Homo sapiens: one gene and its partner. The protein of the gene in region 2 purifies or fractionates together with the protein of the main gene of each other region. This does not show direct contact. Each region holds a gene or a part of one and is shown on either strand. Other genes may lie near its edges.

Region 1 (3,613 bases), on a different chromosome or scaffold from region 2:
CAGATCCCCACAAACGGGGCTTAAGACAACAGAAATGGGCCGGACGCGACGGCGCACACCTGTCATCCCAGCACTTTGGGAGGCGCAGGCGGGCGGATCACCTGAGGTCAGGAGTTCAAGACCAGCCTGGCCAACAGGGTGAAACCCCATCTCTACTGAAAATACAAACAAAATTAGCTGAGCATGGTGGCGGGCGCCTGTAGTCCCAGCTACTCAGGAGGCTGAGGCAGGAGAATCGCTTGAACCCGGGAGGCGGAGGTTGCGGTGAGCCGAGATCGCGCCACGGCACTCCAGCCTCAGCAACAAGAGGGAAACTCTGTCTCAAAAAAAAAAAAAGACCATAGAAATGCTTCCTCACACAGGCCTGAGGGCCGGAAGCCCGTCCCCTCTGGAGGCAGCAGGGGAAGGCCCGTCCTGCCTCTCCCAGTGCTGGTGGTGGCCGGGGCTCCCTGACATCCTTGGCCCGTGGCCGCATCGCTCGTCTCTGCCCCTCTCATCCTGTCCCGCGTCCTTCTCTCTGTGCCCTCACTCAGCTTCTCATAAAGACGGCAGTCACCGGGTCAGGGTGACCTGAATCCAACGTGACCTTGTTTAATGACACCTGCAGAGAGCCTGTTCCACAGAAGGCCTCATTTTGGGGTTCCAGGTTGGCATGAATTTCGGTGAAATAACAATGACCTGGACCCATGACAAAGTCACTGAGCTGCTGAATTAACCAACCCCAGAGCCGCCGACCCCGGGTTCTTCTCGCAGGAGACAATCAAGGTCCCTTTGGCGCCCAGCAGCTCCGAGTCAGGTCTGTGGTGACAGCCCTAAAGGCATCGCGAGTGCCATGACCCAGGGAAGGGCTCTCGGGCAGCTCTTTGACCTGCTGTGCCTCAGCTGCCTCATCTATAAAATGGGTGGAAGCCGCAGGGTTGTGGGGAGAATGGAACCCAGGGCTCCTCGGAACTCAGCACCGCGCAGGACTCGGCGTGAGCCTCGGCGCCGGAGGTACTGCATTTGCACCGATGCTGCCCACGGCGCTCGGACGCGGGGCCCACGCCGCTGATTATCCGGCGTCCAACTTCTCTCCCACACACCGGGATCGCTGCAGGATTCTGGGGGGTTCTGCGATGCCGGCTGAGTCGCCCGGCCCATCCACTCCCTCTTGCTGCTATCACCAATCACCACAAATTGAGTGGCTCCAAACAACGCGAGCTAATCCGCTTATGTCTAGAGCTCAGAAGTCTAAAATCAAGGTGTGGGCAGAGTTGGTTCCCAATCTGCTCCGCCTTTCCCAGCGTCCTGAGGGGCCCACATCCCTTGGCTGGGGGCCCCTTCCTCCCGGTTAGCAGCCACAGCGCAGCCTCTTCCGGTCTCTCTCTGACTCTCACCCCCTGCTGCGAGGACACCGGGCCCCCAAATCATCCCATCTCAGGGTTGCTCACTCGGTCCCACCTGCAGGTCCCCTGTCGCCGTGTGAGGGGCACCTTCACAGAATCCGAGGGTGGATGTGGACACGGGGCCGTTGCTGTGCCCCACACAGGTGCGTGCGTGACGAGTGCCCTCAGAATGTTCTCTCCGGCTCCCGCAGGAGGACCCTCAGCCCCGGGTTCTGGTCCTGCTTTTCACTGCGTAACCTCAGACACAGCTCGGCCTCTCTGTGCCTCAGTTTCCCTCAGTGCACAGGGTCCCTCCAGTGTGGAAGAGCCCTGCGGGCCTGAGCCGCCGGCCGCAGCCCCCGGGTGATGGGGCTTGGCTATTCCCCTCCTTAACTCAAGCTTCCCTGTGACCAGGAGGGACCGGCTGTCCCTGTGCCTGCTGTGATGTAGGTGCTGGGAGACGGGGCTCCTGGGGGACAGCGCTGGGGGCTGAGGCCGGTCAGGCTCCCTGGGGGCCAGGGCCCCTGGTCCATCAGCAACTCCTCCGGGCTCCAACACAGGCTCATTGTCCACTTCTCCCCTCACCTAGGTCCCCTGGCCTGGGCCACCGCCGTCCCTCGCAGCCTCCTCCCGGGTCTCTGCTGCCCTTCCAGACCCTCCTCCTCCCTCAGCAACACTTCCACACGGCCCCTGGAAGGGCTTTCAAAACTGCACACTCTGCGCCACCCCCTACTTAAAACCACCCCCACTCCTCACCACAGCCCACAGAGAGAGTCCCGCTCCCTCTCCATCAGCTCCAGTCTCATGGCTCTCCTTGCCGTGACGCACACGCACCAGGTCCGCTCCCTGCGTGGGGCCTTTGCACCTGCTGTGCCCCCCCTAGAACTCTGTCTGCAAACTCCACCGCGTCAGGCCTTTGCACCTGCACCTGCTGTGCCCCGTCTAGAACTCTGTCTGCAATCCCCACCACGTGGGGCCTTTGCACCTGCTGTGCCCCTGCCTGGAACTCTGTCTGCAATCCCCACCACGTGGGGCCTTTGCACCTGCTGTGCCCCTGCCTAGAACTCTGTCTGTAAACCCACTGCGTGGGGCCTTTGCACCTGCTGTGCCCCGCCCCTAGAACTCTGTCTGTAAACTCCACAGTCAGGCCTTTGCACCTGCAGCTGCTGTGCCCCGCCTAGAACTCTGTCTGTAAACCCACCGCGTGGGGCCTTTGCACCTGCTGTGCCCCGCCTAGAACTCTGTCTGCAAACCCCACCACATCAGGCCTTTGCACCTGCACCTGCTGTGCCCCGACTAGAACTCTGTCTGCAAACCCCACCACATCAGGCCTTTGCACCAGCACCTGCTGTGCCCCGACTAGAACTCTGTCTGCAAACCCCACCACATCAGGCCTTTGCACCTGCACCTGCTGTGCCCCGACTAGAACTCTGTCTGCAAACCCCACCACATCAGGCCTTTGCACCTGCACCTGCTGTACCCCCCCTAGATCTCTGTCTGCAAACCCACCATATCAGGCCTTTGCACCTGCACCTGCTGTGCCCCGTCTAGAACTATGTCTGCAAACCCCACGGCCGGGGTTTCCATGGCTCAGGTCTCAGCTTCAAGGTCGCCTCCTGGGAGGGGCAGCCGCCCAGCCTCCTGCTCTAATATCACACGATTTTAGCTCTGCAGAGCCGCTACCAGAACCTATTTCCTCATCTGTTTGTCCTCTTCTGATTGACTGTCTCTCCTACTGGAATCCAAGCTCCTTGAGAGCAGGAACGAGGTCTCTCATTGTCTACTCATCATCTGTGCCGGGCAGGGGAAGCGTATGCTAAATATTTCCTGCAGTGACGGAAAGCAGCAGTTATCCCCCAACATCCGGAGCCCCAACAACCCTGGCGTCTGAATTCTGAACATTCTAAATCCCACATCCACGGCCAATGGCCACACCTGACTGGTCCCAATGGATGTGGTGTGAAGGAAGCGCACGCGTCCTCCGTGGAACACGCCGGCCGTCGGCGTTAAACTTGTAGGACAAACCGCCGGGAGACGGCGAGGGCGGCCCGATGCCACCAGGGAAAACAGACCCAACCAGGCCTGGCATCCGCACAGACCCGGGGGAGGCGGAAGTGGGTCCCGGGGAGGCGGAAGCGGGTCCTGGGGAGGCGGAAGCCGGTCCCGGGGAGGCAGAAGAGGGTCTTGGGGAGGCGGAAGTAGGTTCCGGGGAGGCGGAAGCGGGTCTTGGGGAGGCGGAAGCGGGTCTT
Region 2 (3,613 bases):
GGTGAGGAATTTATGGCTCAGAGAGTCACACAGCCCACATTTGTCATGGTGGAGCAAAATTTTGCAAGTGGTAGCACAAAAATTTGAACCCAGATGTAACTGACTTTGAAAGTGAAGACTTTAATGAAAGATTTTTGGGGCTATCTTCTGCTAAATGCTATTTTCTGCTAAGTGATAACTTATAAGAGGCTACAGCTGATATCTCAAGTTTTGAAATTCCTTTTTTTTGAGGAGGTTATGAGCATCAATGACATATAGATTATGTGACCATCATAAAAATGAAGTAATGAACACAATAATGTGACTTTTAAAAAATGTGACCTCTAGGACACCTAGGAATCATGAAAGGTTCTAGTTCTTTGGCATTTGAAGGTAGAAATGTTTATCATATGATTTTGTTTAGACTTCCCTAATACCACGTTATGGGCTGATAGACAGCCTGGCAAATATGACATATAATTTGAAGCAGCTACAGAGATGATATAGTGCTTAATTGAACCATATTTTTGATCACGATCTGTAGATGCCCAGATCGCTGATCTTCACGTATATCTCCATTATTAAGGCAATTCATTTTAAGTGACGAGAAAGTTCTGACTTTAGTTAAACTGGATGATTTGGTGAACATATTTTAATTGGGGGGGACAATGCCTTTATTGATTTATAGCATTATAGAACTAATGATACTTCATGCACTTGACTCGTTGGTTGGTTGCATTATTCATCCTCTACCTCAGGGGTTCCCAACCCCTGGACCGTGGACCAGTTATCTTATTTGGAAGGATGCCACAAGTTAGAAGCTATTGTGGCAGTCTAAGTAGGTAGTAAGGGTCTTGACTGTGGTATTGTACATCTTCTAGGCTCAAAACAGCTTTGAACTCCCAGGCCCAGGCGATCAGATCAGATCTAGATGATTTCTTTTAATGGCTCATTTCCCCTGGAAGCCCATAAAACAATTTCAAGATTTTCTGTTTTTATTACTCTGCCTGTTCTTTTATCTTCTGCAGAAATTCTTGATTTCAGGCTTCCCAGCCAGTTTTAATGATCCTGGAAGTACAGAGAGGTAGTATTAACAATTAACTGAGGCTGGGCATGGTGGCTCACACCTGTAATCCCAGCACTTTGGGAGGCTGAGGCAGGCAGATCACCTGAGGTCAGGAGTTTGAGATCAGCCTGGCCAACATGGTGAAACCCTGTCTCTACTAAAAATACAAAAATTAGCTGGGTGTGGTGGCGGGTTCCTGTAATCCCAGCTATTTGGGAGGCTGAGGCAGGAGAATTGCTTGAACCTGGGAGGTAGAGATTGCAGTGAGCTGAGATTACGGCACTGCATTCCAGCCTGGGTGACAAAATGAGACTCCATCTCAAAAACAAACAAACCTCAACAAACAAAAAAACCACACAAAAAAACCAAAACAAAAAAACCCAATTAACTGTATGTCCATAAATACCATATCACACCCAGGCCCATTTTATACTGTGTGGCTTTTCAAAGGCACCACATCTTTAATAACCTATTACTTATGATGTCAAAAAAGATGTATATTTTGCCCAAAAAGCTACAACTTATATTGTTTTGTAACCTTGAAGAAACATCTGGGATTTAGTTTAGCCCCTAAAATATTATTTTAAAAAATTATTTTTAATTTTAGGGGGTTCATAGTGGGTATATATTTTTATGGGGTACATGAGATGTTTTGATATAGGCACACAATGTGTAATAATCATATCATGGAAGATGGGGTAACCATCCCCTCATGATGGGATATCCATCCCCTCAAGCATTTACCCTTTGTTTTATAAACAATCCAATTATACTCTTTTAATTATTTTTCAGTGTACAATTAAATTATTATTGACTATAGTCACCCTATTGTGCTATCAAATACTAGGCCTTATTCATTTATTCTAACTACTTTTTGGACCCATTAACTATCCCCACCAGCCTCCCACTATGCCCCCACCACCCTTCCCAGCCTCTGGTAACCATCCTTCTACTCTCTGTGTCCATGAGTTTAATTGTTTTGATTTTTAGATCACACAAATAAGTGAGAACATGTGATGTTTGTCTTTCCGTGCCTGGCTTATTTCACTTAACATAATGACCTCTAGCTCCAACCATGTTGTTGCAAATGACTAAATCTCATTATTTTTTATGACTGAATAGTATTCCATTGGGTATAAGTACCACATTTTCTTTATCCATTCATCCATTGATGGACACTTAGGTTGCTTTCAGATCTTGGCTATTGTGAACAGTGCTGCAACAAATATGGGAGTGCAGATACCTCTTCAGTAGACTGATTTCCTTTCATTTGGGTATATGTCCAACAGTGGGATGGCTAGATCATATGGTAGCTCTATTTTTAGTTTTTTTGAGGAACTTCCAAACTTTTCTTCATAGTAGTTGCCTAATTTACATTCCTGCCAACAATGTGTGAGGGTTCCCATTTCTCCACATTGTTGCCGGCATTTGTTATTGCCTTTCTTTTGGATATAAGCCATTTTAACTGGGGTGAGATGATCTCTCACTGTAGTTTTGATTTGCATTTCTCTGATGATCAGTGATGTTGAGCACTTTTTCCTACGCTTGTTTGCCATTTGTTGCCGTCTTTTGAGAAATGCCTGTTCAAATCTTTTGCCCATTTTTAAATCGGATTATTACATTTTTTCCTATAGAGTTGTTTGGGCTCCTTATATATTCTGGTAATTAATCCCTTTTTGCAAATATTTTCTCCCTTGCTGTGGGTTGTCTCTTCACTTTGTTGATTGTTTTCTTTGCTGTGTAGAAGCTTCTAAAATATTCTTTTAACAGTAAGTATAACATTCACCCAACATACTCTCATCAGTGAATTTAATAGTAATCAGCAAAGTCTGATATGAACATCCCTTAATCTCAGAACATTTTAGGCAGTAATGGAGTCTAGCCATTAGGCTGTCTTCATAATCTGTGAAATGAATCTGTCTTAACCGTGAGGCATGCCAGTACAAGACTTTCTTGGTATTTTAGTAATTAAGCCCTTTGGGATGGAGTCCAAGGTGGGCCTTTCTTGTATCTATCTGTATGAGTATTTTGATGTTCAAGAAAGGCCCTAGAGTACACAAACGATATAGACCTGTATAAAAGTTCCTGGTTATTAGGTTGTTTAATTGAAGTTAAAAAGTTTAAACCCAAACCTAATTTTTCTAACTCTTGCATTTCACTTTGGCACTGAACTCTCTTAAATAGTCAATAGGACTTTCAAAAATAAATTGAAATCCCTGAAACATTTAAAGCTCTATTTATAAATTAGTTAATTTTCTTTTTTTTTAAATTAAATATGTCAAGTGACTAGCTTAGCAAGATGATATTCAGAGCAGGCAAAACCTTCCCAGATACTTAATTTTGGAAGTTGCGCTATACTTTTCTTTACATTAATGATTAGTTTCCATTTCCATGTTCTCATAATCATACATGTATTTTCTCTATTTGAAAATAAAATGATTTCTTTCACCCAGGTTTTCTCTCTCTCTTTCTGTGTATGTATGTTTGTGTTTTAAATCATGGTTCTCTCTTCTCCTCTACTTCTCTTCCTTATAAAATAAGATCTTTAGGAAACTTTAACTTCCTCCT

The links.
Region 1: the proteins of ARHGAP32 (region 2) and SHC2 purify together in Homo sapiens (affinity purification with western blotting, with the first as the bait; one study listed by BioGRID). This does not show direct contact.

The regions. Positions count from the first base shown.
Region 1 is NC_000019.10:454,468-458,080, forward strand, and holds part of SHC2 (SHC-transforming protein 2), read right to left. Parts: intron 1-3,613. UniProt on the Homo sapiens protein: Signaling adapter that couples activated growth factor receptors to signaling pathway in neurons. Involved in the signal transduction pathways of neurotrophin-activated Trk receptors in cortical neurons.
Region 2 is NC_000011.10:129,185,727-129,189,339, reverse strand, and holds part of ARHGAP32 (rho GTPase-activating protein 32), read left to right. Parts: intron 1-3,613. UniProt on the Homo sapiens protein: GTPase-activating protein (GAP) promoting GTP hydrolysis on RHOA, CDC42 and RAC1 small GTPases. May be involved in the differentiation of neuronal cells during the formation of neurite extensions.